Regions from separate parts of the Homo sapiens genome. Here all the other regions are reported to be linked to region 1. Evidence: microRNA targets listed by miRTarBase, many of them from high-throughput screens and not tested one by one. Region 1 holds a microRNA gene; each other region holds the end of a gene's coding sequence.
What was found. The annotated mature microRNA hsa-miR-1247-3p reads CCCCGGGAACGUCGAGACUGGAGC and lies in region 1 at 1,306-1,329, opposite strand. An mRNA with a match to its seed (bases 2 to 7 or 8) in the 3' UTR can be bound and repressed. Matches are read on the target gene's strand: a 7mer-m8 pairs with bases 2 to 8, a 7mer-A1 pairs with bases 2 to 7 and ends in A, and an 8mer does both.

Region 2: miRTarBase lists VSTM4 as a target of hsa-miR-1247-3p. Seed matches in the 3' UTR shown: 8mer at 3,804-3,811.
Region 3: miRTarBase lists SMC5 as a target of hsa-miR-1247-3p. Seed matches in the 3' UTR shown: 7mer-m8 at 2,318-2,324.
Region 4: miRTarBase lists ZDBF2 as a target of hsa-miR-1247-3p. Seed matches in the 3' UTR shown: 7mer-m8 at 1,925-1,931.
Region 5: the mRNA of DENND6B is a reported target of hsa-miR-1247-3p. Seed matches in the 3' UTR shown: 7mer-A1 at 2,783-2,789 and 7mer-m8 at 2,523-2,529.
Region 6: the mRNA of KCTD20 is a reported target of hsa-miR-1247-3p. Seed matches in the 3' UTR shown: 7mer-A1 at 480-486.
Region 7: miRTarBase lists MRPS14 as a target of hsa-miR-1247-3p. The part of its 3' UTR that is shown has no 7-base or 8-base seed match.

Annotation. Positions count from the first base shown.
Region 1 is chr14:101,559,021-101,563,494 of GRCh38, forward strand. It overlaps MIR1247 (microRNA 1247), which reads right to left and starts at 1,402; the gene lies at 1,267-1,402. DIO3 (iodothyronine deiodinase 3) reads left to right here and starts at 2,475. Exons shown (of 1, transcript NM_001362.4): 1 at 2,475-4,432. The coding sequence starts at 2,477. The coding sequence ends at 3,391. It overlaps DIO3OS (DIO3 opposite strand upstream RNA), which reads right to left and starts at 1,402. Exons shown (of 2, transcript NR_152588.1): 1 at 1,232-1,402.
Region 2 is chr10:49,015,637-49,020,110 of GRCh38, forward strand. It overlaps VSTM4 (V-set and transmembrane domain containing 4), which reads right to left. Exons shown (of 8, transcript NM_001031746.5): 8 at 1-4,139. The coding sequence ends at 4,014. Among named protein-coding and RNA genes, the nearest start is that of MIR4294, 32 kb to the left of the region's middle.
Region 3 is chr9:70,351,998-70,356,471 of GRCh38, forward strand. SMC5 (structural maintenance of chromosomes 5) reads left to right here. Exons shown (of 25, transcript NM_015110.4): 25 at 194-2,876. The coding sequence ends at 334. Among named protein-coding and RNA genes, the nearest start is that of KLF9-DT, 60 kb to the right of the region's middle.
Region 4 is chr2:206,310,580-206,315,053 of GRCh38, forward strand. ZDBF2 (zinc finger DBF-type containing 2) reads left to right here. Exons shown (of 5, transcript NM_020923.3): 5 at 1-3,848. The coding sequence ends at 1,014. Among named protein-coding and RNA genes, the nearest start is that of ZDBF2, 38 kb to the left of the region's middle.
Region 5 is chr22:50,308,344-50,312,817 of GRCh38, forward strand. DENND6B (DENN domain containing 6B) reads right to left here. Exons shown (of 20, transcript NM_001001794.4): 18 at 4,180-4,282; 19 at 4,000-4,074; 20 at 687-3,918. The coding sequence ends at 3,796. Among named protein-coding and RNA genes, the nearest start is that of PLXNB2, 2.9 kb to the left of the region's middle. RefSeq lists a silencer at 325-374.
Region 6 is chr6:36,486,471-36,490,944 of GRCh38, reverse strand. It overlaps KCTD20 (potassium channel tetramerization domain containing 20), which reads right to left. Exons shown (of 8, transcript NM_173562.5): 8 at 1-4,062. The coding sequence ends at 3,770. Among named protein-coding and RNA genes, the nearest start is that of KCTD20, 46 kb to the right of the region's middle.
Region 7 is chr1:175,010,982-175,015,455 of GRCh38, forward strand. It overlaps MRPS14 (mitochondrial ribosomal protein S14), which reads right to left. Exons shown (of 3, transcript NM_022100.3): 3 at 1,977-3,870. The coding sequence ends at 3,688. CACYBP (calcyclin binding protein) reads left to right here. Exons shown (of 6, transcript NM_014412.3): 6 at 1-1,046. Among named protein-coding and RNA genes, the nearest start is that of MRPS14, 10 kb to the right of the region's middle. RefSeq lists a silencer at 1,678-1,878.

The sequences.
Region 1 (4,474 bases):
ACTAACTGTGGGAAAAGGGCTTGGGGAACCATCCCATGTGCCTGCACCAAATGCTGTGTGGGTGGGGCAGGACACAAGCCCTACACTGACACCTCCCAGAAATCAGGGAATCAGAGCTTGAGAGATTGTCCAGTAAAAGTTGGAACCCTCAACACCCCTTGACTCTGCCCAGGAGGAGCAACCTCAGAAGCCCCCCCAAACCTCCTCTCAGAGACCTGCCGAGTAGGAGGCTTCTCTCTCTACTCTCCTCCCCGCAAAAAAGAGGCCAGAAAAGAGGATGATTGGCTAACTCAGAGGTGCCCTGATGGAGGGGAGCAAACAAGGGGACTTCCAAGGAGAATTCCCTAGCCCACCTGAAAGACCCCTACCCAGAGTGGTGAGGGGCAGCTTAGGAGCACTGACGCAAGGGGGAGAGACCAGGCTGGCTTCCCTCTACGTAGTAAGTTCCTGGGGTGTGCGCCCCTGCCCCAGACAGCAGAGAAATCGCCTGACTGGGAGATGGAGAAGAGGGGCCACCTTCTCATGCCACCCCGCCGCCAATCCTCCAGGCACACTCGGGCGCTTGACCTGCTGAAGCCTGTAGCCTCAGGTCCAGTGAGGAGCTCACGGGACAGAGGGCCCTACCAGAGCCACGAAAACCGGAGGGGGGGACCTCCGCCCAAGGCAGGCGTCTCTGCGCGCCCGCTGGGGCCCTGGTCCTGCAGTTGGCTTCTCCCGACACGTTCCTTCGCTGCCGAAAGCGATTCGCCCGCGCTCTACCGAGCCCAGCCAGCTCCTACCTCGGCCCGGGCGGCGAGCGCTGTCTCCGTCCCGAGAAGAAGTTTCGCGGCTGGTCCCGGGGCGGCAGGCGCACGGGACGCTGGCGGCGGCGGCGGCTTCCGACTTGGGCTCAGACCCCGCCGCTCCAGACAAGTCCCCGCGACTGCGACAGTGTCTCGGGCAGTTCAGCTCCCCAGACGGGAGACAGACCCTCGCGACCTGGTTCAGGCCTTGCCCTGGGGGACACTGCAGTCCAAGGCGAAAGGAGACTTGCTCCCGGCCTCTGGGTCCCTAGGTCAAGGCACCTCCCCGCCCCGCCGCCCCTGAGCCCAAGTCGCCAACCCCGCGCCGCGCGCAGCGAGGGATCAGAAGGTCTCGGACGCCGCGGCAGGGCCGGCCAGGGCCCCACGAGTTAGGGAGTTGCCCCGCACCCCTAAACGCTCAGCACCCATTTACGGTTGAAAGTACGCACTTGACGCGTCCGGGCGCCTCCGCGGTGAGTCGCGCCGCCGCTCTCGGGGTCCGCGAAGGTGGCTCAGTTCGGGCGCTCCAGTCTCGACGTTCCCGGGGTAGAGAGCAACGTCCGGGGACGAACGGGACGGGTGCGCCCAGCGGCCGGGGCTGCGCTGGGCGAGGCAAGCGGCGAGAGGGGAGCGCTCCGGCGTTCAGGCAACAGCTACCCCTAGTGGGAGAGCCGCCCGGGGCCGGCGCCGCCCCGCGCCCGCTGCCCCGCGCCCCACGCCCGTGGCGCCCCGCGCCCGGGTCGGCTGGGGGCGCAGGGCCGGCGCCGCTTTCCCCAGCTCTCCGGTCTCCGGCGCCCGGCGGTAACCCGCCCGCGGGCTCTGCCCTCCGCACCTCTCAGCCCGGCCCCGGCGGCCGCTGACCCAGGAACCGCGGCGCCCCGCTGGAACGAGATGGGACGGGGCGGGCGCGGCCAGGGCGGCGCGGGCTGGGGCGGCGCGCGGCAGCCTCGGGCAGCGGCGGGGGGCGCGGAGCGCGGTGTGCGTGGCGGGGCGGTGCGGGGGGCGGCCGTGTGCGAGGCGCGAGTGTGAGCGCGCGCGGGAGGCGGGCGGGCGGGCTCCGGCAGGCGAGCGGCGCCCGCGGGCGAGCCAGGAAGGCGGCGGGAACGCAAAGTTGCCTCCTCGCTGGCCCGCGTCCTCGGTGGGGCGGGAGCCGGGGCCACCGAAGCGGCGGCCGCGGACCCGGCCTCCCGCGGCACCTGGGCAGCGGCCCCGCACGAGCGGCAGCGGCGTGGGCGGCGTTGGCGGCGGCGCGCGGGAAGCGAACCGGAGCTCCGGCGCGGCTCGGCGGCCGCCGGGGAGCTCGGCTCAGGTGCGCGGCGAGGGGGGCGCGGGCCGGAGCCAGGCGGCGGGGACCAGGGCGGCGCGCAGCGCTCGCGCCAGCTGGAGGACCTCCCCAGCGGACGCCCAGGTCCCTGGTCGGGCTCCCGGTCCCCAGCGGCAGCGGCTGCCGGAGTCCCCCGCCCCCGAGAGCTGGCTGCGGGGCCCGGGCCCGCCCCCACCGGCCCCAGGCCCGGCCGCTCCGCCCTCCGCCCGCCTGCGCCCGCCCTCAGCCCAAGATTTCTAGGGCATTGGCCGCGCTGCTGGGTGATCCCTCCGGGCTCAAGTTGCAAGGGGGCGGGCCGGGCCGGAGGTGGAGTCTCCCGCCAATTGAAGCCTCCGCTATAAATTGAACTCCCTGCACTGCTGAAGCCCAGATGCCTCGCCAGGCCACGTCGCGGTTGGTGGTCGGAGAGGGCGAGGGGTCCCAGGGGGCTTCGGGGCCTGCAGCCACCATGCTCCGCTCCCTGCTGCTTCACTCCTTGAGGCTCTGCGCCCAGACCGCCTCGTGCCTCGTGCTCTTCCCGCGCTTCCTCGGCACGGCCTTCATGCTCTGGCTTCTCGATTTCTTGTGTATCCGCAAGCATTTCCTGGGCCGCCGCCGCCGGGGGCAGCCCGAGCCCGAAGTGGAGCTCAACAGTGAAGGCGAGGAGGTGCCTCCCGATGACCCGCCCATCTGCGTGTCCGACGACAACCGCCTGTGCACCCTGGCGTCGCTCAAGGCGGTGTGGCATGGCCAGAAGTTGGATTTCTTCAAGCAGGCGCACGAGGGCGGTCCGGCGCCCAACTCCGAGGTGGTTCTGCCCGACGGCTTCCAGAGCCAGCACATCCTCGACTACGCGCAAGGGAACCGCCCGCTGGTTCTCAATTTCGGCAGCTGCACCTGACCACCGTTCATGGCGCGCATGAGCGCCTTCCAGCGCCTGGTCACTAAGTACCAGCGCGACGTCGACTTCCTCATCATCTACATCGAGGAAGCGCACCCCTCCGACGGCTGGGTCACCACGGACTCTCCCTACATCATCCCACAGCACCGGAGCCTGGAGGACCGGGTCAGCGCAGCGAGGGTACTGCAGCAAGGTGCACCCGGCTGCGCTCTGGTCCTCGACACCATGGCCAACTCCAGCAGCTCGGCCTATGGCGCCTACTTCGAGCGTCTCTATGTCATCCAGAGTGGCACTATTATGTACCAGGGCGGCCGTGGCCCCGACGGCTACCAGGTCTCTGAGCTGCGCACTTGGTTGGAACGCTATGATGAGCAACTGCACGGCGCTCGGCCCCGGAGGGTGTAAACATCCAACGGACAATTGACTGAACTTGGTGGGCTGGGCCTTCGAGCCTTCGAAGCCCACGTGCAAGCGCCTCAAACCAAGTCACGCTTGGCGAGGCCCCAGTGACACTGATGTGCTGAGCCACCATTTCAGACTGAGTCTGCACCCTCAGCCACATGAACAATCTCCCCTACCTCCCTGGGACTCTGCTTCTGTAACTGTCTCATTCACACCTGCCTGGCTCACTGGAAATCCTCTTTTGAGCGCGGGATATGGCTTGCCCTTGTCCGTGTGCCCCCAGGACTTTGCCTCTACAGCATTTTCTTACACCCCCTCCCCAGCGTGCCCTCAGCCAAGTGCTTTGGCCCGGTGCTTCCCGCAGCTGCACAGAGACCTTGGCCACGCCCGCGCGCCCTGAGCGCAGCTGGGTTCCAGGAGACTCTCAGCTCAGCTGAGCTAGTTGCCTGGCACCCACCTGTCGCGCGCGGAGAGGGGGTTCCCTGTTGCTTTTGTGTCTGTTTCCTGTCCCTGGTAGGGGAAGTGATGTCGTGGATGGGGAGGGGTGGGCAGGGTAGTTTCCCCCGCTTGTTTTGGGTGCACAGGAGCCCCACTGCTGATGACGAACTATCTCTAACTGGTCTTGACCACGAGCTAGTTCTGAATTGCAGGGGCCTCAAAGCAGCACCTAAACCTTGAGGGGGAGGGTGCTCTGGGTTTCCGTGAGGTAACCACCTTAAATGGGAGGGAAGTTGGGGTGTCTGCTTTGGGACCAGAGGAAGATAGCTTGAGAGGCATTGGCGAGGTTCGCAGCGCCCCAGGGAGAGAGAAAAAGCTGAGACTCCTGGGGAATGACGTTGGGGTGATGGAGTCCGGGGAAAGAGAGGTGGGGGGAGAGCCTGAGGTCCCCAAGTGAGGGGAGTCCTAGGCAGAGCTGCTGATTGTGGGGCTGGGAGGTGGAGGGCCCCTGATTCGAAGGCCATTTGGTGAGTGTTTTGCTGGAAATATTTCCTGTATATAAACTTCTTTCAATCTACAATAATAAAGGCTTGAGGTAAACTGCTTTCTGGTTGCCTTTGGTCCCTTTATTTTCTTTTCCCTCTGAAT
Region 2 (4,474 bases), not on the chromosome of region 1:
TGGAGTGGGGTCAATGTCCCCGCCATGTGGCTGCCTCACTTTTTAATGGGCTCCAAATGACACAGAGCTGGGTCACCTGGGTCTCACTGCAGTTTCCTGGATCAGGGATACTGGAAAGATGTCATGTTCCACATGGACACCAGCCTAAGCTTTAGGCTGACACAAAAAGACTCCCTCCAGCATGCAAGTGGCATGGCTCTTTTTTGTTACCACGCTGTTCCCTTCCACTTATTGGTGCCAGTGCCCCTCAGTCCTCCTCTGGTCCTGTTGGTGTCCCTCTCCAAATCTGAGGCCTCCCTTCCTTAGGGAGAGCATCAGTCCTGGAGCCCTCCATCGGGAGCTCTCCATTAAGAAGGGCATCTTCAGAACCCAGGGTGGGGCCCACTCGGGCAGCAGGACACACGGTGCAGCAGGAGCTCAGGGGCTGCAATGCAGCCACTGGGTGTGACCTAATTGGGCACCCTGGGTACTGATATCAGTATTTTGTTTGTTTGTTTGTTTGTTTGTTTTGCTTCCTGTTCTGGGAAGCAACTTTGATGCATACTGTATTCATATTCTTTATGCAACCTGACTGGCTTGACCAAAACCAGGATTTAAACAGCAGAGTAATTAGAGAGTTTATGGAAGAGAAGAGTCTGGGGATGTTAGGGACTTGGGTAGAGTCCTGCCCTTCCAGGACATTCTCCTCCCTGCTGCTTGCTCAGTGTCTGTTGCCTTCCAAGGCTTCTCCACTAGGCAGGAGATGTGGCAACAGATAGATATGTGCCATTCCAGCTTCACTGCCCAAGGCAAAGATGATTTCTTTCTCCCCAGGATTTTGATATTCCAGGGGGCCATGTGCATGCTTAGGACCATTTCTGGCATGAGCTCCATTCTTGGCTCAGCCTAGGTTACAGTCATGCATATCAGAGGCTGTGATGAGCAGGGCCATGAATAATTCCCAAAGCGAGGGGGTCTTTGGGCTCATTGCTGTGTGGGCCAGCCCACATTATCATACACTAAAAATATATTTTCTAAATGCCCCATGTTGTCTTCACTCTCACAAGAGTCAAGAGGTGGGAGGCCTGGCTTTTCCTTATTTTCCCTGTGAGCTAACAGAGTGGCGGTACATTCGTAAAAAGGTGACTCTAAGGAATCCCAGGCCTCTCCTCCACTACAGCTGCTTCAGGGCAGGCCTCGGGGCTTTGGCTTGGCAAGACAGTTTCACCCAGGTGGATGCCCCTTCATACCTCCCGGCTTCCTGTGCTGACTCCATGCCAACCATGCCAAGGCCAAAACTCACCACCAAATCTGAGAGCATCTGCTGTCTGCCTGAAAGAAGCCACTGCACTCTAACCAATGGGTTCATACTTCTTTTAGCTTCATTTAAACATTTAAGCAATGGTCTATTTTGAAAATTACTCATATGTAGTTTCTGCCATTGATGCCTTATAGTGAAAACAAATTGACAAACTTTCCCTAATTTCTATTTCAATGATATGTGATATGTTTCCCCTTATCTTTGGAAATGACAATGCATGATTAGTGGTCCATGGACAAAGAATGAATGAGTGGGCACATTTTTTTAAGCTTACTATGGCAATAATGTCAATATATCCTCTCAAACAAGCACCTGATACAAGTCATCCATTGCTTCCAGTTCTGAGCACAGCTTGGGCATTTGCTTCTGGAGATAACAGTGGGACCAGCTCTGCCTGGATGCTGTCCATAGCTTCCAAGATTCCCCTGGGCAGCATTTTCAGTAGGAGGAGATAATCTGCAGGTTCCCATTCACACACCTTAGTGTGGATTCATGCAGTGATGACCACAGTTTGGGAGAAAGAGGCTGGATTCAATCTATAATATAACAATGACTGGTTTGACTCTAACTGGGAGCTACTAGCTCTTAAGAGCATGTGTTCTTGGTAGAATGTGTTCCTGTCCATGCATAATAACCCTAAGCTCTCTTTGGATTTAAGTGGGTGGGTTTGGGGGTGAATGAAGTTCATTTCCGTTCTGTAGAGGCCTAAGGGGCCTGGGAAGATATTACCCCCTGGCCTGTTGCCCTCTTCCCGCCATTTCCTTTTCATGTGCCCCCTCTCCTTCCCATTTGGCACCCCCAGAGCCCCACAAACCCATAAGGCTCTTTGGGCAAATTAGGAGATCATCCTCTGCCCTCAAAACACTATACATCTGTCAGAACACTGCCATGATAAAATTAAAAATCCCTGTGATAATTATTATATAAATGGTGTGCTAACCATATATCCTCCCCTCCCAAAGAGATGCTCAAAGAAGTTCTAGTGAGTTCTTCCAAATGGTTCTTTCTTCCTCAAAAGCTGCATGGTTTATTCAGTGCCTTCGAGATCTGGCAGAGAGGGAGGAATGAGACACAGGTGTTATCCAGAGAGGGTGAACTTCCACTTTGTAAAGGCAGACCAGTTTGCTCCCAGAAAATCAATATCTGCTTCCAATTTGGACCCTTTCCAATAAACCATAAACTCTCATGAGTCTTTGGGAACATTACTGTAGGGCTAAGTTGGTGGACAAATATTTGGTTTTTAAAGTTATTGCAATGAAAGCCTTAAATAGTGAAGAAATTTTCATTTTGAAAATGCAGACTGGCTTTAGCATGAATGTCAACACAGAGCATTTGTGTAGCAATTTACAGTTTCTAGAACTGGCAAGATTCATTATCCCATTTTACCCTCAAGAATTCTATGGGAAGTTAAGTCGTCTTTACACAAACATGGAGTCTGAGGTCATTAGGGGATAAGAAATTTAGCCAAGTTCACACAGCTATATAGAGGGCACAACTCATACCCCAGCTGTGTTTAAAATAGATAATTTATCATATATACATGGTCCACTACATAGTCAAACAATTTCTATAGTGGGCAGTAAATAGCCACCCAGACTATACTCACATCAAGAAATGTCCTCAATAACACAGTTGACAGGATGGTGCTTTCAGAATGGATCCCCTGCCAGTAAGTCCAAGATTCCTGTGTCCCAAAGGTCCACAGAGCAACTTCCCCATGCACCCTGACCCCCATTCAAACCCATTAGAATTCACACACAAGGTTGCAATGGGCAAGGCACTTGGCAAGAGGAGGGTCTTCAGAACACACTTTCCAGCTTGGCGTGTACTTCCCACTCTCCTACCCTGAGGGCACCTGGCAGCAGACACCTTCAGGGGCTGAATCAGAGGTGACTGAGCTTGGCACACAGTGAAGAGGCCCATGCGCTCCAGTGTGTCTTCTGATGGCCAACACCTGTGCTCCTTTGGAAAAGGGTGAGTAAGCACTTCTTAGAGAGTGTGTTTCTCTATCAGTACAGGTCCACCTTGTGAAAGGGCTGGAAGCCCTCTAGAATGGTGTTCTTCTTGTCCTGCGGCCTCAGGGTCTCATAGGTGGGCACCATGGCATTCAGAGACAGACCTTATACTTCTCTAGTCAGTCTGCCCCTCTGGCCTTAATCTTCAGGGTTAGTGCATCTATTTAAAACAAGAGATGCCATCTCAGGTGGTGCTGGCAATCAGCAGTTGGCTGTGGCCCTGGCAATGCCATCTGATCCTTGGAAAACCAACATATGTGCCATCTTACAGTTGGGTCCATAATGGCATTTCCTCTAGCTATATACTGTGAGCTTGTATCGTGGATACAGGAAGAGTAGAGAGTAAAATTAAGATTTAAAAACGATTTTAAAGAAAACCTGGGGAAAGAGGAGAAAAATGTGAAGGGGTTTGGCTCAGCAGAAAATCTCCTTGGCTGCTCTCAGGATCAGAATCCTTACGCTCAGGGCTCAAACCCAGGCGCATCTTGTCCCGGGAGATCTGTCAAGAGCTGTGGCCCCGATTCTTTTGGGGAGAGCAGGCTTGTACCTCTTCAAAGGCACCCAGAATGCTGCTGAAAAGGGGCTCCCCACCACTCAGAAGGCATGAGTGAAAATACAGACATAAGGGCTTTGTCTCCAAGGCTTCATAAATCACTGGGTGGCAGGTATTAAATAGAACCTTGGAGGTGGACGCTGTACTACAGCTTGTTCTCCTCGAAGAGGATCTGGGCGTAGACAGTGCTGGTGGGGGCGCCTTTGGCAGCCCGGTGGGGTTTGATCAGCTCCAGTTCGGCATAGGTTAAGTTTTCCTCAGCAATCTTTGGCTATAAAAGAAAAAACAAAACAAAACACAATTCTAGCTGACCACAGGAGCTCTACATCACACATTCATTCATCAAGTATGCATGTTCATAGCATTTTGGGATTCAGCGAGGGATAAGTGGACAAGAAATTTAAGAGGCTACATAATATCCAATAACATAATTAATAAGATAGATCTCATTGTCTTCTATAGAGCACTACGTCCTGCAGTGAGATCCTGTGATTTGCTTTCAAGTTGACATGAAACACTCACAAAAAAATGACTAAACACAAGGCTAAAATGAAACTTTAATGCTGAAGAGTAAAAATAATGTAACTAATGGTCTCTGATCAAAAG
Region 3 (4,474 bases), not on the chromosome of region 1:
TTGAATCTGGGTGGTGGAGGTTGCACTGAGCTGAGATCGCACCTCTGTACTCCGGCCTGAGCAGCAGAGTGGGAAAAAAAAAGTTTTATTAATATTGCAAATAAAATAATACATTTGACTGTACACATGTAAGGTTGGAAAACTATACTTCTCAGTATATAGCTTATATGACAATTTGTTTTAATACTTACAGCTCCTGCAAAATCTTCCTTATTCTGAAAAGATGACAGTTTTGTTTGTCTACAATGGCCCTCATATGCTGGAACCAAACACATGGAATTTAAAGGCTTTCCAAAGGCGGCGGCGCCGTATTACATTCACTCAACCTTCTTAATAAAAGTAAAGAGAGGGAACTTGGGAATTTTTTTTGTTAAATTCTGTTTATAAGTATGGCTCAACTGAATAAAAGGAGATTCACTAAAACGAAAAGCAGTTATTTTTGGAAACCTGCTTTTAAATACAAATAGGTTGATAATGGAAACTATAATGACCTTTCCAAAATAGCAGCTGGTAGTAAAAGTTAAGTCTTCTTCAGTCTTGGTTGAACTTGAGTTCTTGGCACTCTGACCATGAGTCATTCAGTTCTCATGTTAAAATGTACTTAATATTACAAATCAAAGGTACAGTGGAAGAAGGGTTAATCACAAGAAGTTACTTATATGGTAGCCCTGAGCTTTAATTGCAGAGTAACTTTAATTACTTTTAGAGCCTAAAGATGACTCTAGAGCCTAAGTCCTAGTTTCTCCCAATGTTATATTTAATTTTAAAAAATTGATATGAAAATGTCTAATGTATAGTAATAATTTATGACAGATCTAGTCATTTCTTCCTATTAAAAAAGATTACCTTATCTCCAGTAGGAAATGGAATTTTATGGGCCTTTAAAAGAAAGTTTTATGAAACTTGATGCTATAATTTTATTGGTATTTCAAGGGGAAAAAAGCACTGGGGTTCAAAAATGGTAGCAGAACTGCTTTGAAATGCTGCAAGGTGGCCACTAGATGATGCAAAATACAACCAAAAGATTGACTGAGAATAAAATTAGGTGACAAGGGTTTTTAAAGAATAACCTTTTAAAGTGTGGGGGCAGGGGTTGCTTTTTTTTATTTTATTTAAAGTCAATTATATTTTACATCTTACATTTCTAAAAGCATTTTATAATTATTTTTAGTAAGATTTTTCTTAAAATTTCATATACTGGTTTCTACAATTTATATTTGAAATTTCTCAGTGTTATGTAAAGAGTGATGGAAAAGCATTGATTTCTTTAAAACCGTAATGTTTTTAGAACTTAAGCCTATAGGGCCTTTCTTACAATGTTGATGTACCCATTATCTTAGAAAATCTAGTTTAAACTGTTTTCTTTCACCGCAAAAGAATTAAATGGGAAAATCATTTGTTTATCTCTAAGTTATACTAATTAGTAGAACCAAACAAATTATCTTCTTTTAAAAAATAAATCTTATAGGAAAATAGACAGTCCAAAGTCATGTCTTTGAACAGTGGATTGGATCTGTGCCAGTAATGACAAAATTATTTTTTTGACTTGCTTGCCTGAATAAATTGAAGAATTGCTTTCAGTTTGGGTTTTGTATATTCTTAAGTAGCCATTGAAATTTATATTCTTAACTAGGTCAAAAAATAATGAGCCATAAGTTTATGTCCTCTCACTTAGACATTTTCTCTTTAAAAAGGTATTTTCTTCTTTATAAACATTTTAAAAGAGCCTTCCCTTCTTAAACTAACTCCAGTGCATGAAGTGTGAAAATATTTTAAAATGACATTTTTACTAATATGAGCAAGTCATGTAAACATTGAAGAACTTGGTAACATATTAGTAAATGGATATTACCAAATGTTTTCATCGTTAATTACTTTGCGTTCCACCAAAATATCTTTACTAAAATGTGCTTGGTGTAGTTTGTTTATTGTCTAAATTAGTACCAGTCATCTTATTTCTGCAAAATGAGTATCAATGTGAAAAAGACACGTGAAGATTAAGCATGTTTGAAAATAAAATGGTCAATTACATTTCAATTTACATAGGCCAACAACTGTTCCATACTTTGTTTGTAAACATTTAATTTCTCTACTGGACAAAATTAATATTTGGCTTTACATTGAATTTTGAGCTGTGAAGAATAAATTATGTATCATTTTAGCATATTAAACAGTAGTAAGTCTAGCACATAGTCTCAGCCACTTAAAACAAAAGTTTTTTTGTTTGTTTGTTTGTTTGTTTTTTTGAGATGGAGTCTCACTCTGTTGCCCAGGCTGGAGTGCAGTGGCGTGATCTCGGCTTACTGCAACCTCCGCCTCCCGGGTTCAAGCGATTCTCCTGCCTCAGCCTCCCAAGTAACTGGGACAACAGGCGCGTCCCACCACACCCAGCTAATTTTTTATACTTTTAGTAGAGATGGGGTTTCAGCATATTGGCCAGGCTGGTCTCGAACTCCTGACCTTGTGATCCACCCGCCTCGGCCTCCCAAAGTGCTGGGATTATAGGCGTGAGCCCCTGCACCCGGCCAAAAGTTGATTTTTAATTACATAAAAATCGTAAAAACTTCTAGTAAAAACTTGATTTGGTGAATACAGTTATATTTAAAAACCTTAAGGTGACAAGCATTTTCTATGCCTAAATCTTCATTGGTTTGCCTGGAAAGAGTCTCTGTTAAAAGATTTTCCATATTCAAAGTAAAAGGAAAGATTTCTTGCTTTCTAATTGTCTTTTGGACACATGCCTATTTTCTTTGAGGTATAAACCTTTAGATGTGAAAAATGTAATTTCATTCTGCTATTGTGTGTGCTTGTGTGTGTGTAATTGAAAAAACTGGGAAATCCTGCTTTGTTGGTAATAAATCAATATTTTTATATTCTTTTGGTGTATGTTATTTTAAGTGAGAACTATTTTTTATACTCTGAACCTTATTAAGAGTCATTTTGGTTTTCAGATTTACTAAAAAAAGGTCTGTTAAGTACCCACATTTACAAAATAGTGTTCAGCAGTCTATTAGTGTTCGAAAGGGTAGAAAATTTAGTCCCTTTTCTGCCTGCAGTGAAATCACAGTCTAATAGAAGCAATAAACACTCATGAAAAAAAGGTTTAAACCATTTAAAGAAGCCAAGTTACAAGGCCGAGTATTCATCAGAGAGGCTGCAACATAGGTTAACTGTTTTTATGTTTAAACACTATGTTTGCTAACATGCCCAATAGCCAATTTTCACTTATTACTCCTTACATTAAGCTACTATATAAAGTAATTTTTTTAAAATATATTTTTGAGTCAGGCAGACTTTCACTTACAAGTTACTTGATAGTCTCATCATTGGTGAAATGAGAATCATACCTAATTCACAGAGTTGTTGAGAGGAGCAAATGAGATCGGGGCCTATTGGGACACATAGCATTATAGTGAGTACATTATTAATGTTTATGTATCTTCTCATATTTTAAATCTTGAAAAATGTACTGTGAATTTTATACACCCAGGTCTGAAAATTCTAAATAATGTGAAAGTAGAGATTATTTTGTAGTCTATTGATAAATAGTTCAAAGGATGCCAATACCTACAGACTGAGCATTGGGGAGTGCTGATAGTTATTTTTATAGATCTTGTTACCTTGTTAAATTCAAATATAAGTTAGTCAGATGAGCTTCTTTAAAGATATTCCATCTCATTATTTTATATTGATATATAATTTGGAAATTTTATAATTAATAGAATTTGCACATTTGGGAGATATGACTATGTTGACAATTTGGGCTTTTTATTTCCACCAAAAAGGTTAGGTATGGGGGATTTTATTTATTTTTTAATGTTGAATTATAACTTTATTGCTGCAAAATAAATGACTGGTGATTGGCTGGAAGATTTAGATATTTTCAAAAAAGCCAGCTTTGTATAATCCCAAAGAGAGAGAGCAGGTCTCCTCTGGTTAGCTTCATTCTAAGCTGTGCTAAGAGGACTTGGTGAAGCTGAGGGCAACCTAAAAACAGCTCTGGCCCTGGCCCTGGCCCTGGCCCTGCCTTTATCAGAGAGGCTGCAACGTAGGTTAGTTATTTTTAGGTAGGTCAGAAACACCTGAAAGACGTTCTCCTTCCACAAATAGTACCTTACCTGTCTGACCATGCTTTTGTTAGTAAACTTTAATTTCCTTTTGCCTGAGGAGACTGTTACACGCTCTTGGCATCCAGGGTCATGCGTTTAGAGTGAAGGTTGAGGGGAAAGGGTGCCAAGAGGGTCACTTGACCATTTCTGCCAAATTTAAGGAGTGGGTTAATGAATTCCAGTGCAGGAAAGATTTGGGACAAGCTGCCCAATGAATGTTATGATAGAATGGTAAATTTTACATTCCTTTCATATTATTTAGAATTTATTTTAAAAAAGAGATGAGGTCTTGGTATATTGCCTAGGCTTGTCTCAAACCAGCCTCAAACCTCTCTCGGCCTCCCAAAGTGCTGGGATTACAGGTG
Region 4 (4,474 bases), not on the chromosome of region 1:
AAACTGAAAGAGGGTGAAGGCCTTCCTTTCCCTAAAATGAGGCACCATAGTTGGGATAATGATATTCGGTTTATATGCAAATATAAACGGAATATCTTTGATTATTATGAGCCCTTGATTAAGCAAATTGTAATTAGTCCTCCCCTGAGTGTAATAGTACCAGAGTTTGAGAGGCGTAACTGGGTTAAAATTCATTTTAATAGGAGCAACCAAAACTCCAGTGCAGGAGATAATGATGCTGATGGACAAGGCTCTGCTTCAGCGCCTTTAATGGCAGTGCCGGCAAGATATGGATTTAATTCACATCAGGGAACCAGTGACTCTTCTCTGTTTCTGGAAGAATCAAAGGTTCTGCATGCTCGTGAGCTTCCAAAGAAAAGAAATTTCCAGCTAACATTTTTAAATCATGATGTTGTCAAAATCTCTCCAAAATCAGTTAGAAATAAGCTTTTGGAAAGTCAAAGTAAAAAGAAAATTCATGGAAAGAGGGTGACAACTAGTAGTAATAAGCTAGGTTTTCCCAAAAAGGTTTATAAACCAATTATTCTCCAGCAAAAACCCAGAAAAGCTTCAGAGAAACAGTCAATTTGGATTCGGACCAAACCAAGTGATATCATTAGAAAGTATATTTCGAAATACTCTGTCTTTTTACGTCATAGATATCAGTCCAGGAGCGCTTTTCTTGGAAGGTATCTGAAGAAGAAAAAATCTGTTGTCAGTAGGCTAAAGAAGGCGAAGAGAACAGCTAAAGTGCTTTTGAACTCTTCAGTTCCACCAGCTGGTGCCGAAGAGCTGTCAAGCGCTATGGCAAATCCTCCTCCAAAGCGACCTGTGCGGGCTTCTTGCCGCGTTGCAAGAAGGAGGAAGAAGACTGATGAAAGCTACCATGGCCGACAGAAAGGTCCTTCTACACCTGTGAGAGCATATGATCTGAGAAGCTCATCTTGTTTACAACAACGTGAGAGAATGATGACTCGGCTAGCAAACAAACTGAGAGGTAATGAGGTAAAATAGAAGTTGGTTTTGTGTTCAGGCTAGTTGAGGATTCAGTACTTCAGTTGAAATATATTTGGTACTTTGTGCACACAGCTTTCCCAGCTTTGGTGAGAAAACTAATCTTGAACTATTTTGCTATAAATATTATTTTTCAGAATTTTTATATTCATTTAAAATTAGTGTTTAGAGTCCTTTCATTTTAAGATTCAGAAACAGCCTTTGTCCAACATTTTCTGTAGAAGAACTTCATCTTAATTTATGTCACAAAATAATTTAGCACCGTATATAGAATTTTGTTCCTCAAATCATATCCCTCTTATTTTTTATGATTATCTCTCTCATGCCAGCAAATTTAACATTGTGAGAATGAATATAGCAAACTTATTAAAAAGAAGGAATTATAATGAATTATGTCAACTTTTGAATGGGGTTGACTTAAATGAATACAAACAAAATATAAGTTTTCTTTCTTTTTAAAGCATTCCAGAAAATGAGATTCCATAATCTTTAATACAGTTTTTAAAAACTGGTGATTTTTTTTATGCATAGCACAAACTCCTCCTGCTTCATTTAAATTGGATCTGCAAGTCTCTAACTTTTATCATTTGGACACATGCACACATACAGTCTCTAGGTTTTTTGGGTTAGCCTTATTAGATCTTAAAGGGGAAAATAATTTTGCCCATGTGTTTAGGCATTCCCCCCCTTTTTTTTAACCACCTTTACTCTCTTCTACATGAAGAGTTGGTGGCTTAATATGAAAATCCAGGTTATTTTGTGGCCTTATCCCCTAAAAATATTTTAGGCATTACCATATCAGTTTTTATTTTTATGTTTATTTATTATTATTATTTTTTGAGACAGAGTCTCACTGTCTTGCCCAGGCTGGAGTGCAGTGGCCTGAACTTAGCTCACCGCAACCTCCACCTCCCGGGTTCAAGCAATTCTCCTGCCTAAGCCTCTCGAGTAGCTGGGACTACAGGCGTGCGCCACCATGCCCGGCTAATTTTTGTATTTTTAGTAGAGTTGGGGGTTTCACTATGTTGGCCAGGCTGGTCTCAAACTCCTGACCTTGTGGTCCACCCGCCTCAGCCTCCCAAAGTGCTGGGATTACAGTCATGAGCCACCATGCCCAGCCTACCATATCAGTTTTTAATAACTTGAACTGAAATTATTGGCTTGGTAATATTTGGGCAGGCCATTAATTCTCATTAGAAAATTACTTAATATTTCAAAAAATTGAATAAAACTGGTAATCTTTGTGGAGGCCCATTTTGCAAGTGGAAACCTGTATTTATACATTAGTTTGTCTTTAACTATTTGTTAACAGATTTTAACAGTTCAAATGAAAGATGTTAACGAGATGCAGTTTGAGTCTGGGATACTCAGAATAGATCCAGAACCTTTATTCAGGGACACTGGTTGAGTTGGTACAGATGCATTCAGTTGTCATTCATTCGTGTTAAGCCAAGATCCTGGATCTTCTATCATTAATGTTAAGAGGAAACATGAATTACAACTATATTGTATGACTGCCATATTTTATTGAAACTAAGGTCAATGTTGAACCATATCTTGATTTCAGAATTTAAAATGTGTTACCTTAGAAATAATGAAATATAGTGTAACAGTTGGTTTCTAAATGTGGTTTTATTTCAGGGGCCATTATTTAACCTGTGTGTATGCTATGATGGAGTTCTTTTGTGATTTCTTTACTTCTAAATTTAAATAGTAATTATGTTTAAAAACAAATGTTTTTGTCTTTAGTTGCAAAGCAGCATATATCTCATTTCCTTCAACCTTGCCTCCTCATACACAAATATATTTTCATTTCTTAAAAGATCACTGGGCCAGTAGTTCAAAATAATCCTCCAATTTTAATTTAGGAACAAAGCTTTGTCCTACTGACTAGGAAGTAAACAAACAGCTGATATATAAGATATTTGTGGGTATTGGTGTCTTTTTTCCCTATGGAATAGACACATAGTTCCCTTAAATATTATTAATAGACATTCTACAGTCTTTCAGTGTAAGTTTAAAAGCAAGAGATCAAATGAAAATGTGTACTATGTACCTATGATGTGTCATATCGTGATTACATCATGCAGAGAGAACAGTTCCTGTAATTCAAGTAATTAAAATTTCAAGTTGTAAAAATGTTACCATTTTCACATTGGAAGCCCTTCTAAGTACCATTTTCATTGGGGGCAGGGAGAAGGTTTATATTTAAATTTTATATTACCAGACATAAAAGTACAGTGCAGTACTGATGATTTTGTTTAAAGTTTTTGAAATGTTTTGTTTACTAAGTTCTTGTAATCATTATTTTAGACAAGCTTGAAAACTTGAAATTGTTGAAACTTATAATTTAAATTAAATTGGAAATTACTTTCAGAATTTGGTAGTATACAAGATGTGCCCCTTTGTCTAAATAAATGTTGGCTTAATTTGCAGAATAGATAAAACAATTGATGTTTTTGTGTGTTCAAGAATGCATTAAATTCTTTTAATAGTAAAAAGTCAAATTACGACCATAATGAGTATTTTAATCTTGTTCTTGTTCAGTATTTTGCGTAGATTTTTATTGTAATTGTCCTGAGTTCTACAGTATGTGAACAATATCGTGTGAAGTGTGTTTTTGCATTTGTGCATTTAAATTATTTATGTAACTAGGGCTGTGAGTAACACTTTTTTTTTTTTTTTTTGGTTAAAGAAAAGCTATATTTAAATATTCAAATAATTATATATTTCCATGTAAAACTAATGTGAAGACTAATGTATTTTTTATATTGCAGTGTAAAAGCTAAACTTGTTTTTGATGTTATCAAGATAAAATTTATTAAACCTTGAAATTTGTCTGTTCTCTCTTCATGTTAGAAACTTTTTCTGGGAATACTTGAAGAATAAGAGAATAATGGCCTGAGAGATAATAAATGAGAGAATGTAAATGTTGATGCCAGTGAGAAAGTAGTTTAACCAAAGATATACAGATTATATTCGATGCAGTAGTTATTTCAAAGGATTAAAATTAAACCATTTATTTGTCTGGTGGAGTGGTGGATTAGCAGCTTTTCACTTTGTGTACCTGTATTGAAAGGGCCCGTGAACAAGACTGAGTTCATGAGGCTGTATCTATATCACTGTTTGACACCTACTGGGGAGGGAGAACTTGGGAGCCTCCACTACCACAGCAAGTATTATAAAATACAAGAAAACATGAGAAAGTGTATGTGTGTCAGTGAGGTAGGTGCCTTTGGCACCAGTAGTACTGACTTCCAGAGTTTGTTGGCCTAGATGTTATTGCCAGGATAAACAACATCCTAATCTTTTTTTTTTTTTCCTTTCTTGAGGCAGAGCCTCTCTTTGTCGCCCAGGCTGGAGTGCAGTGGTGCAATCTCAGCTCACTGCAACCTCCGCCTTCCAGGTTCAAGTGATTCTCCTGTCTCAGCCTCCTGAGTAGCTGGGATTACAGGCATGC
Region 5 (4,474 bases), not on the chromosome of region 1:
CCCAGGGTAAACTGGGACCTGGAGATGGCCTCCCAGCACATCCCTGGCCTCCAGCAGCACCTTGGGATGCTGCACCCGGGACCCCACCTGGTCCTTCAGGGCCAGGAGGTGGGCGGGCCGAGACCTCTTTCTGGGGGTTCTGGTTTCTGGGACAGAGCTGGCCCCACTTCTGGCATCCCAGGTCCCAAGTCCTGGCCTCAGTGCTCCTAGTGTCCCCTGGGCTTGAGAAGAGGTGGTGAACCGTCTGCAGGGCCAGACCTTGGAGCACGCCTCCACTGCCCTCCCGGAACTGGATGTGCTGAGCAGGAGACAGAAGCATTCCCCAAGCTCTTGCCCCCACCCTGGGTCACCCCTCCCTGGGGCCCGCCTTCCACCCAGACCTGCCCCGTCCTTGCAGCTGGTCAGCTTCCTCCTGTCCCCAGCCAGGCATCCCCTCCTCCTCTGCTTCCCCCACCCGGGATCCGCCCCGCCACATCCTGACAAACTCCCCCAGCCTGACTTAGTTCTTTCAGTCTCTGCCTTCTCCCACCCTCAAGCAGCCAGGCCTTGTTCCTGTCCAAAATCTTCCCTTGGGCCTTGAACCACAATCCACATCACGGCAACCCTACCCTTCACTGCAGAGGACCCCAAAATTACCAGGTTCTGACAAGGTTGCCAACTTTTTATCAAAAAAGGAAAAGACAAGGTCCAGTCACAAAAGGACATTTTAATACCAAAACTGTGGGAAGGCCACTGTTCTAGACTAAAAGGGAGTCTTTAAATAGCCAGCAGGAAGCTTGAGGGTGAGCAGCTGTCCTTCCTGTCCCTGAGCAGGCCCCCTGTGTGCACCCTCAGCCCCGAGCCCCACTCCAGACCTGCTCCCAGCCCTTCCCACCCTCTAGGTTCTGTGGTCCCTGTCCTTCGGGAGGCCTGTGACCACAGCAGTCCTCACCCTCGCCAACTAAGTTCTGCCCAGCAAGCCCTCTTGCCTGCGGGGGCTGGCACTCTGGCCAGGGGTAGAGCTGTCTGGACCTTCCTGCCTCTTCACTGACTGCCCCTGGCCTGGAGTGCGTGGGGCGGGGAGGGCCATGGCCTAGCCCTGGACAGAGGCTCAGCCAACTCAGAGCGGCCCTGACACTGGGGGGGCCACAAGAGGCATCCGGACAGATGGAGCTGGCAGGTCTCCACGCCCAGCCCCCACCCATCCACCCCAGGCCACATTCCACCCCAGGCCTCTTCTGCACAGGTGGGGACAGGCCCTGAGGAAGAGGGGCTGGGACACTACCCCCCACCTTAGCCTTAGCTTCTGCCCAGGGCAATGCTGGCCACCCAGCCCGGTTCCCCCCTCAAGTTCCCCCTTCACACGCCACTATGTGGCCTCACCAGAGCCCTCCAGGGAAATCTGCTTGTGCATTTCTGGATACACAGTGGCCAGGGTCCCTGGGGGCTCCTCAGAGACCAGCCTGAAGCCCCTCCCCTGCAGCCATGTGGGTCTGCAGCCCTCTGTGCTGTGCGGCAGCCCTCAGAAAGCCAAGTGAGGCGAGACTGTGCTGTGGGGAAGCACATGCTGCCACGGTCCTTGGGGTGCGCTCCCCAAAGTGGGGTCACAGTTGTGAGAGAGGTGGGTTGTCTTCCCAAGCTGCCCCGACACCTTGAAGTGGTGGTCCTCAGGGGGCTGGTCACCAGCATAAGGCTTTTGCAGAGGGCCCTGGTGGAGGGCAGCTGATGGCAGGGCCTGTACTGGCCCCCCAGGCCCCATCTTATGGAGGTCAGCATTCAAGCTGCCCACACAAGAGGTGCCAGCATCTCTGCAGACCCTCTAGAGACCAAGCCCTCAGTGGGGAGGCTGGTCCCCCTGTGCTACAGTCAGGAGGCCCAAGCTGCATTTGGGGCCAGGACCTTTCTCACCCTCGGGTCCCCGGCTTGTCCCTGCCACAGAACAGGTTTGCCACCTCGGCCTCTATGTGTTCTGTTTCATGTGGTCACATCCTTGGACCCTGCACCAGACATCTGGGGCTTAACAGCTCCCCTTGGTCACCCTCCCGGCTGCCTCCGCGTCTTGTCTGTAGAATGGGAACAGGGACAGGCTGTCCTGGGCTGCAGTTGGGCTGGACAAGTTGACATGTACCAAGTTCTGAGAACTACCTGGCGCCCGGACACCTGACCCCGCTGTCCTTGTGGCTCAGTCACATCCTGCACTGAAGTGGCTGGCAGTGCTCGCTCTCCACCACCTGGCTGGAGGTCTGAGAGCACCAATGAGAACACAAACAGTACGTTGCGCTGAATGAAGGCTACATTCCTCGGACTGAATGGGGGCCTCAGAAGAAAAAGAAAAGTCCCGGCCGGGCGCGGTGGCTCATGCCTGTAATCCTAGCACGTTGGGAGGCCGAGGCGGGCGGATTACGAGGTCAGGAGATCGAGACCATCCTGGCTAACATGGTGAAACCCTGTCTCTACTACAAATACAAAAAATTAACCAAGCGCAGTGGTGGGTGCCTGTAGTCCCAGCTACTCGGGAGGCTGAGGCAGGAGAATGGCGTGAACCCGGGAGGCAGAGCTTGCAGTGAGCCGAGATCATGCCACTGCACTCCAGCCTGGGCAACAGAGCGAGACTCCATTTCAAAAAGAAAAAAAAAGAAAAAGTCCCTCCCCCAGCCCTGTGTCCCCTGGCCAGCACCCGCCCGGCCTCACAGGGTACAAAGCCCAGTCTCCATGAGTGGCCCTCCCAGCACCCTGTCGGGCATCTGCATGGCTGGCTCGCTCAGATGAGGAGTCTGAGGGTCTGAGTGGTCAGGGGACCTGCTCCCGGGCACACAGTGCGTGATGCTGAGCAGGGCTTGGCTGTCCGGAGCCCTGACAGTACCGTCACTGTGTGCTGTGCAGGGTCAACACCGTACCTCACCGGCCTCAGTGCCTGCAGGTGTCACGGGGGGAGCATACAACCCAGAGGTGGCTCTTAGGGACGTTCACCCCTTACCAAGGAAAGGGAGACATGCAGGCTCCAGCCAGAGGCAGGGTCAGGCCGAAGTCCAGAGCCCCTTGGGCTGCATGTGGGGGATGGACGGACACACTTGGACAACAGGAGCCCTGTCCACCTCCCAGAAGGGACGCACGGAGCTGGTGCCTGGTGGGGGCTCCAGGACTGGGAGCCAGGAAGGTGCTGTGGCTCTCCGAGAGCCAGGCTGAGCCAGCTCTCCTAGCAGAGGTGCTGGGCTGCACACAGCCCCCTGCCCAACCCCTACCTCCCAACAAACCACAGCCCCAAGCAGGTGGGTGTCCAGAGGAGCACCAGGGGTGGTGAGCAGAGCTCTTCACACTGCAAAGTGGTCTCTCCCTTTCTCAAGTTGATGACTATATGCAAAATAGCCTCCCATCCCCAGACAAGACGGGGGCTGTGTCAGGAGAGGGTCCCTCCTGTCCTGGGCAGCCTGTTGGGCTGAGGGAAGCATCACACACAGCGCAGGGGGGTCGGGGGCCAACAGATGGGCACCGGGAGGGGCAGACGGTAGACGCACCCACATCAGCAAGGGCTCCCAGCCTGTCCCCGCCCCCGTCCCAGCCTAAGGTCTGCAGAGGCCAGGTGGGACCCAGGAGGAGGCAAGGCTCTGCCTGCGAGGAACCCCTATGGTCAAGGCCATGCTGTGGTTCCAAATGTCGCCTTTACTGCTGAGACAATGGTGGTGCAGGAAGGGGAGCCTGCAGTCTGGGCGGGGGGCCAAGGAAGGGGAGCGTGTGCTTGGCCCAGTGCCGCCACCACTGGGGAGTGGGAGGCTCAGGCAGACCTAGGGCCCTGGGACCGTGGCCCTTGGCTTTGTTCTAGGGAGGGCACAAGACAGCCTGCAGGTCTTTGGGCAGGGAGCCGATGACCGTCTCGATGTACAGCTGTGCCCGCTGCAGCGTAGCCTCCTTCACAGGGAGCTGGTGGCCCTGAGCCCGCACCTGGAGGGGCAGCCATGGTCAGGGCAGGCGCAGCTCCGTGCCAGGCTGGTGGCGCTGGGACAAGGCTGGGAGGCATCTTACCAGCTTCTCACGAAGTTTCAGGACCAGGTCCACGACCTCCACCTCGGACTTGTCTTTCATCCAGGTCTCGATGTTCTGCAGGGCAAGACGGGGTCTACTGTCAGCAAGGCCCCTCACTGCCCTGGGCCTGTGCCCACCCCCACCATGTTCTGGCCCTCCCCAACCCCCAGCCTCTCTCACCGCCTCACAGATAGCCTCCAGGTGCAGGGCCTCCAGCTTCAGGGCCATCTCCTTGTGCCGCTGCCGGTACCAGCCATCAAAATGGGGGGACTTGAAAAACCGCCTGTGGGGATTAACAGGCGGGGGGCCATGGGGCTGACCCTGGGGATTGACAGGCGGGGGCCATGGGGCTGACCCTGGGGATTGACAGGCGGGGGGCCATGGGGCTGACCCTGGGGATTGACAGGCGGGGGGCCATGGGGCTGACCCTGGGGATTGACAGGCGGGGGGCCATGGGGCTGACCCTGGGGATTGA
Region 6 (4,474 bases), not on the chromosome of region 1:
GAAAGCATCATATTTGCTTTCTGAGCTCAGTATTCCCATTTCAATAATTGCAAAGTGATGGCAAGAAGTGGCACTGAATACATTACTACAAACCCTTGACTTAAAATATTGAGACAGGGTCTTGCCCTGTCATCCAGGCTGGAGTGCAGTAGCGTCATCATGGCTCACTGCAGCCTCATCCTCCTGGGCTCAAGCAATCATCCTGTCTCAGCCTCTTGAGTGGCTGGGACCACAGGTATGCACTACCATGTCCATGCCTGGCTATTTTTTTAATTTTTTACGTTGCCCAGGCCAGTCTGAAACTCCTGACCTCAAGTGATCCTCCCACCTTGGCCTCCCAAAGTGCTGGGATTACCGGCATGAGCCACTGCACCCAGCCAAAACCTTTAATTTTTTTTTTTCTTTTTTGAGATGGAGTCTTGCTCTGTTGCCCAGGCTGGAGTGCAGTGGCATGATCGTGGCTCACTGCAACCTCTACCTCCCGGGTTCAAGCAGTTCTCCTGCCTCAGCCTCCCAAGTAGCTGGGACTACAGGCACTTGCCACCACACCGGGCTAATTTTTTTGTATTTTTAGTAGAGACGGGGTTTCACCATGTTGGCCAGGCTGGTCTCGAACTCCTGACCTTAGGTGATTTGCCGGCCTCGGCCTCCCAAAGTGCTGGGATTACAGGCGTGAGCCACCACGCCTGGCCAAAAACCCTTGCTTTTTAACTTCGATTGACACTTAACAAAAATCCTCCACATCCCACTTTTTGACAGTTTACATTAAAGCCTGTGGTCTGAATATTTGTTTTACTTAGAGGGGGACCCTTTGGGCAACTTATTTGCAAACACATCTAACCTTCCTGGGCTTATTCCACAGTATTTTCATAGACCTGTATATATTAGACATCACACTGTTCTCTTGGGATTTAAAGTAGTACTGGGTACTGCATATTGTGCAGTAAATCTGGCTTGCTTTCTTAACCTTTTTGCTGCCATTCTTTCAAATATTTTTCCAGGGCTTAGGGGAAACCATTAAATGATCTGACTTAACACTGTCGTCTTGCCCTCCCTCCAACTCCTCAGTGGCAAATGTTTCCTCATCAAAACAGCATGATATGATGCAGATGCAAACTCAAGATTCTAAACTTCAGATTCGGGTTAATCTTGGCTTGCCGATTTCTCTGGCTAAAATATCAACAGCCTGGCTTGCTTATTTAGGCACTTAGAAGAAAACACCAAACCCAAGTTTCACATTTTTAAAATTACAAATGCCTCTTACCCATCTGGCCAGGAACCAACTCTGAAGGGGGTGACCTCAACCCAGCCCTTGTTTCTGTGAGGTCCTGCTTTTGCAGAATGGCCTGCCCCTGGGACTGGAGCAGGCTTGGGTGAGCTCTAGGTGGAGGGTGGTGGGAGGGGCATAGAAATAAACCTTCCTCTCCATCAGAAGGAACCTGTGATCCCAGCTTTTCCTTCAGTCACCACCACCTCGTGACACTAGAAAGCCTACCGTCACAGATTTCCAGCTTACTCAAACCCCACAGGTTGGGGTCAAATGCATGTTAACCTAATTTGGGGGAAAAAAGACTCAATCTTGAAAGCCTGAGCAAAGTAAAGGGTTACACAGGACAGTGTCAAGTATATGCCATACTTCATACCTGGCATTTTCCCTAAGCAAGAACTAATTAGTTTTCATTTTTAAGTGTTAGCTGTGGCATGGTTTACACTTAAATGTTAACAATACATAAGCTGTGTAACAGAAGTTATACATAGTTATCATGGAATATACAAACACTAGGTAATTCAAATTTCCTTTGTAATGGCATGGAAGTCTACTGAGAAGCAGAAAAGAAGCACCATTTAACAATTATCTGGGCTAGTCAACTGGTAGTGGGTATAAATGTACTGGTAAGGTCAAGGCCACACCTAACCTCAAATATGAGCCAATTAGTTTCACAGAAATAAAATTACCTTCTAGCTACAAATAATCCTAACCCTTAATCCAGGCCATTGGCCTTGCAAATGGATGCCAATAGTCATCAGGTGGGGGATAGCTCAGTTTAACCACTTACTACATTCTAGTGAAGAACAGAGCATTAATTTCCACAGTGATGCTAGTCACATGCAGAGAACGTAAGAACACTTTTTCAGCCCTGGAAAGAGCTTTCAACATCTACCTGGCTTTTATCTTTGGATGATTATGACTAGGACAGTCATTAAATGGAATCGAGTAGCCTCTCCTACACAGGATGAGCATCCCAAATCCAAAAATCCGAAATTTGAAGTGCTCCAAAATCCACTTTTTTGAGTGCTGACATGACGTTCAGAAGCCTTTCAGATTTGGGGTGCTCAACTGTTAAGTATTCCAAAATCTGAAAAAATCTGAAACCTTTCTGGTCCCTAGCATTTTGGATAAGAGATACTCAACCTGTATTCCAGTCAGCTTCTACCACAAACTGGGAGATAATTCCAAAATACTTATATCTGGCTCTGCACTCTAAATTTAGCTATACTATTAATAGCCATGGAGAACAGGAGGGAAGATGGTTCAGCACTGTGTGGGCTGAGGAGGGTGATCTGGGTGATCATGCACTGATAACAGAGCTAATAGATCAAATAAAATGACTGGGCTTAATTTCCATTCAGCTCACCCTTCCTTTGGGGATGACATTGGTATAATATTCCTACCCAATGTGTGAGCAGCTATTAGGCTATTTCAAGAACCAAAATACACTGATATCCAAAAATCCCATGGTATGAAAACATACAGAGAAAAGTCCTGCACTAGGACAGGGACTGTGCAGATGATGCTTCCCACCCAGCTTCACTCCATGTACCCCATGCTGGCACTCTTATGAGTCTTTCTGTTGAGAAACTGAGCAATTGTAAGCAATTTCTGTCCTCATCTTGAAAGCCTTTAAGCCATATCTAAGGTCTCCTGGACATATCCACAGCAATGTGCTGCTCCAGAGTGTTAAGACCTATGGTTTCACACCAGATTCCAAGCCAGGATAACCCAACTGGCCTGATTTGGAGAGGTCCTTCTACTTGCATTGTGAGTTTCATTCCAAATGAATCATCCATTTGTTTAGACTCCGAAACCTTGAAGCTAAAAAGGTCTCATCAACACTGTTATTCCATTATCCTTCCTGCCAAGGAATCTGTGTGGTTTTGAATTGTTCACTGCATTAATGAGACACAAATCTGAATTTAAGCTCTTAAGAATTTCCTTTTGGACATTCTGAATGAGACCCTAGTTCTTTCCAGATGCAATTTGGGTGCAGAGGCCACCAAGAATGGCATCTTCATTAACCTCTAATGAGCATCCGATTGGTGTCTGCTTTTAGAAGTTAGAGATTGTCACCTTTTCAGTTTGGTCCCTTTGCTACTAAGCAATTTGCCTGGTATAAAACAAGACAAAAACAAAACCCAAGAACAGAGTATAAAGGATAAGGACTGCTTTGCTAAGCACGAGGCAACAGGAGTCTTGACTTCCTTTCCTGCTTTTGCAGTTACACAAAGACTCAATGAACAGCACCAGACCCAAATTTTTCAAGTTACCAGGGCTGCTGCAAAGATGGTAGCTAATTACCAGTGAGTACTTCTTCATCCCCTGCCAGAGGCATGGACTTACTGAAAAGGACATATGTTAATTATGGCAGAAAGGAAAAGGTTAGGGGAGAAGCATGTCTCCTACTCAAGGTGAGACAAATCACGAGGGAGGGCTGGCTGCAGGCATCCCAGGTGAGATGGGCTCCAACAAGGAGTAGACCCACAGCTGGCCCTAATCCTGAAAGTCGTTAGAAGCCATCTGAGAAAGTGGGGCATTTAGCCGGTCAAGTTCATCCACTTGGGGTGGGTGATGCATTAATATCTCCTGGTCCTCCAAGACATCATCTCCAGCAGCTACCAGATTCGTGAGGGATTTGCTTCGAACACACTGGAAATCCACATGGCGACTCTTCCCTTCTTCCTTTTCCCATGACATCTGGATGAAGGGGCGTTGTACATAATTATAGATGACTTCAGACCGGCCGCCAGGCCTTCTCTTAATTTTTTCTTTACAGGTAGGGTAACCTGCAATGGAAAAAGGCCATTCTCATGACTAACAAATTGTGCTCACTCTGGTGTCCATACTTTCTCCTTCCTAACCACATCAGTTTTCTCCCAAAATCACAGCATGGAAAATATGTGCGAAGTGACCAGTCCCTGTCCCATGCTTTCCCAGCCCCAGTCACCTACATGTTCATTTCCTTCCTGGTCAGATTAGTAGGTCTTGTCCCTAGAAGGGACTAATCTGAGAAGTAACAAGAATTCTATCCCTTCTAATGGAAAGAGGAGAGAAGCCTCTTACCAGTTCAGGAACCTGTTGTTGCTGGCAACAATACCATAGAAGAAAAGTCCTGCCAAAGCATGGCTACCCTAGTCCTCTTAATTCTATTGCTTAGAGGGCATACTATATGAGAAACAGTTAAGGAAATGTGGAATG
Region 7 (4,474 bases), not on the chromosome of region 1:
TGGCGCCCGTAATCCCAGCTACTAAGGCTGGAGGATCACTTCAGCCCAGGAGTTTAAGGCTGCAGTGAGCTATGATGATGCCACTGTACTGCAGCTTGGGTAACAGATTGAGAACCTGTCTCATTAAAAAAAAAAAAAAAAAAAAAGCCGTTAGACACACAGGAAAAATCCAGAAGGGTAAACTAAACTAAAGCTACAATTAATATGGGAATTTGGAAGAAGTGGTAGGATTTAAAATACAGAAACAGTTTATGTATAGGATAGCTATAAGTAAATACTGAAACACATTATGCCTCTGTAATTGGGGTTGACACATGAACAGAATAGCAGACACAATGCATATGAAAGTTACAGAATATGGTAAAAGTGGGGTAAAGATGGGTTTTTAATGATACTAAGATAACTGAAAATAGGCATATAGATATATTCCAAGCCGCCTGACGATCTAATTGTAAAAAGTAAAGCATACAAATACTAGAAGAAAATGGAGGAAAACGACATTATATGTGACTTAAAACCTAGAAGAAATAAATAAAACTATTGATCAATTTTAACTACATAAAAATGTTTATAGGACAAGAAAAACCCCACCATAACCCAAGGCAAACAATGTATTGACAGGATTCCAATAATTAAGAATACTTCATACAAAAAGAAATGTAAATGACCTTTAACATGTAAAGATGCTCACCTTGTTCAGAAGAGAATAAACCAGTGTTTTTACCTTTCACTTGAAAAAGAAGTATAAAAACAACTGTATTGAGTTGAGGCTGTGGAGAAATAAGGACACATATATGGGAATGGAATGCAAAAGTTAAACTTTGGTTAACAAGAATATTTGGGCAGGTGCAGTGGCTCACACCTGTAATCCCAACACCTTGGGAGGCCAAGGTGGGCGGATCACTTGAGGTCAGGAGTTCAAGACCATCTGGCCAACATGGTGAAACCCTGTCTCTACTGAAAATAAAAAAAACTAGCTGGGCATGGTGGCAGATGCCTGTAACTCCAGCTACTCGGGAGACTGAAGGACAAGAATCACTTGAACCTGGGAAGCCGAGGGACGAGAATCACTGGAACCCGGGAGGCAGAGGTTGCAGTGAGCTGAGATTGTGCCACTGCACTCCAGCCTGGGTGACAGAGTAAGACTCTTGTCTCAGAAAGAGTATTTGGTAATAACCATCAGAATGACATATTCATTTATCCTTTGACCCAGAATTTTAACTTCTTTCTGGGCTCTGAAAGGTACATTTAGAAAAATTTGGAATGCTATATGCAAAAGATTAAAAATACTCGTGTCTATTTAACAGGAATGTATTATGGTGCATCCACATGAGGGAGTACTTAAGTCACAAAACAATGAAGAGTTCTATATAACGTAAAATGGTCTCCAGGATAGAGTAAGTGGAAAAGCAAAGTGCAGAACATTTATGGTATACCCACTACATTTGTGTAAGAAAGGGTGAGAAATGTGAATGTATGCACATAGGTGTATTTGCTTATGTTTCAAAAAGAAACGAGTAAACCCAAAGCTAATAAAAATTGTTAGCAGGGGAAGGAAGGAGATGAGGATGGAAGCTATTCTGTGAATTTAACTTTTTCTAGAGTTTTGACTTTAGAACCATCTAAAATTTAACATGACTGAAAAAGTAAAACATGACCCTAAACCTATCAACACATTGTCTTAGTCTATTCCTGCTGCTGTAACAAAATGCCATAGACTAAGAATTTATAAATAATATTTACTTCTTGCACTTCTGGAGGCTGGAGAAGTCTAAGATTTGGCACCAGCAGATTGGTGTTTGGTAAGGGCTTGCTTTCTGCTTCCAGTACGGTGCCTTCTCGCAGTATCAGAAGGGTAAAAGGGACAAACTCTCTCCCTCAAGCCCTCTTAGAAAGGCACTGATCCCATCCATGAGTGTGGAGCCCTCCTGGCCTAATCACCCCTAAGGGCCCCACCTCTTAATAATACCAACGCATTGTGGATTAGATTTTAATGTGAATTTTGGAAGTACACAAAATGTTCAAACTATAGCATGTATATATATCAAGTTGGCAGTATAAACTACTTGCAAGTAACTTTAGAACACAAGTGTTTGCCCATTGGTAGTGAGATGGATTCTAAGTTGAGATATTAGCTAGAACATTCCAGTTGGTAAGTTGTCATACATATTTAAGAAATATGAATCCAAACTAGATTGTGATAATTCCCTCATAACTTCACCTCCACCTGAGTTTCGGACTCTGCTATCCAGCTGCGTACTAGTCTTCATCAGATGACACAGGCATCTCCAACACCGCATGACTGGAACCTGAACTCGCTTATCTTCTGTTTCCCCTAAATTTGTTCTTTTTCCAAATTTTCTATCTTGGAGTTGCCCTCTTGGAATTGCCCTCTACCATCTATCTAGACACTTTTATCAGGAACCCAGAGAACCATCTTTACCTCTTAGATATAATCAGTCTTGTAAGTCTTGCCCAATTTTCTTTCCTAAAACTTTAAAAATCTGTCCTCTCTCCTCTACTAATACCACAATGTTAGTTCAGGCCTTCATCTTCCTCAACAACTAAGACATCCTCCTAACTGGTTGTCTTGCCTGTAGCTTTTTCCTCTCATGGCCATCTGCCACACAGCTGTCACTTACCTGTATTACAAACTGATGATGTCATTCCTGTGCTTAAAACTCTGTAATACCTGGTATGTCAGTCTTAATTCCTTCACATGATTTGTGAGATCCTCCACAATACGGGCCTTGTCTTGTGCTTCATATTTCTGATCTACTGAAGTGACTGTGGTTCTCTGATGCTACAGAGTGCCTTTGCTTCTTTGTGCTTTTGTTCCCTCTGTGTGCAGAAAAAAATCTCACCCCTCACCTCCTGATTTATTAAGTTCTCCAGGAATATTTTCCTGATGTTAAGTAGGTACTTCCATTCAGTATGTATATTTTTATCACTGGGCTGATGATCACACTGTTGAGTTACTGAATGAGAACTTTGTGCTACCCTTACTCATTTCTGTTATGGATTAAATAAACATAAAAATAGGGAATATATACTGTTCCAACAAACTTTTCCTCTTTAGATGGAGACTTTCAAGGACTTAAAGAGGCATAATTTGTTTTAAAGTCCCTTAAGGATGGACAAGAAAACACTTAGTGGTTCTTTTGTTCAGCCATCACAAGAAGAAGTGGAGCATTAGATAATCCAGAACAGCAGCCTTGCTATCCAATCTGTTTATCTAACAATAATAGTTAAGGGGAGCTCTGCAGGTCAGCAAAGCTAGTCCAGGATTACAAACTGCCATACATGAGCTACATGTCAATTAGTTGGATTATGTATAAGATAGCATTTTATGAAATAATGCTCTTAATACAAAAACCCCTATATGTTACTAAAAGATTAAACTTAAAAGGAGGGTATAAAAAACATTCACAGAAAATATTTATTATGCTACTCTTTGTACTATGTATGGGAACAGTATGTTTGTTAAGTCCAAGAGAAAAGATAATTCACTGACATGAAACACCCAAATGTCTTCATTTTAAAAGTAGTTTAGAGATAGCATCAGGTAGGCCAAACAACTGTACTGGGCCCCTGTAGAGATTAGGGTTTGGTCTATTAAAAAAAATCTTTGCTTGCTGGAACTGCAAGCTTGGCTTCCCTGCAAGCTCAATAGGTTCTGGAGCTCATTTACCATGTCGCTCGCTGGATCCCAGAAAGTTGCCCATGGTCAGCTAAGTGACGGAAGACTATACGACTAAGCCTCCAGCGCCGCTTCACACCACGCGGACGGGACGTCATAACACACCGATTTCTGATTCTAACAGGACAGCTATCCCGGGGGAGGGCAGCAATTTCTTCATCAGCCACATCCTAAGGGAAATCACATTATTACACAGATCACATTACATTGTTGCACATGTATTTTGCTCCTTCTCACTTGCAGGTAATTTTCTTTTCTTTTTTTTTTTTTTTTGAGACAGAGTCTCGCTCTGTCACCCAGGCTGTGGGTGTTAGATTGTGCAATGTCACAATCTCAGCTCACTGCAACCTCCGCCTCCTGGGTTCAAGTGATTCTCCTGCCTCAGCCTCCCGAGTAGCTGAGATTACAGGTGTGCACTACCACACTCAGCTAATTTTTTGTATTATTAGTAGAAACGGGGTTTCACCACGTTGCCCAGGCTGGTCTCAAACTCCTGAGCTCTGGCAATCCGCCCATCTCTGCCTCCCAAAGTGCTAGGATTACAGGTGTGAGCCACAGCGCCTGGCCACTGGCAGGTAATGTTCATTGCATGAGTACCATAATTCATTTATCCATCCTACATTTGATGGTCATCTTACGATTTGGGCGAATATAAATAGTGCAGCTACATACTCTTGTTTAACTCATTTGTAAAGTATGTGAATGTATTTCTGTTGCCGCCTCATGTTTTTTGAATCACGAAAGTGAAACCTCTGGAATGATGATCAAATAGGA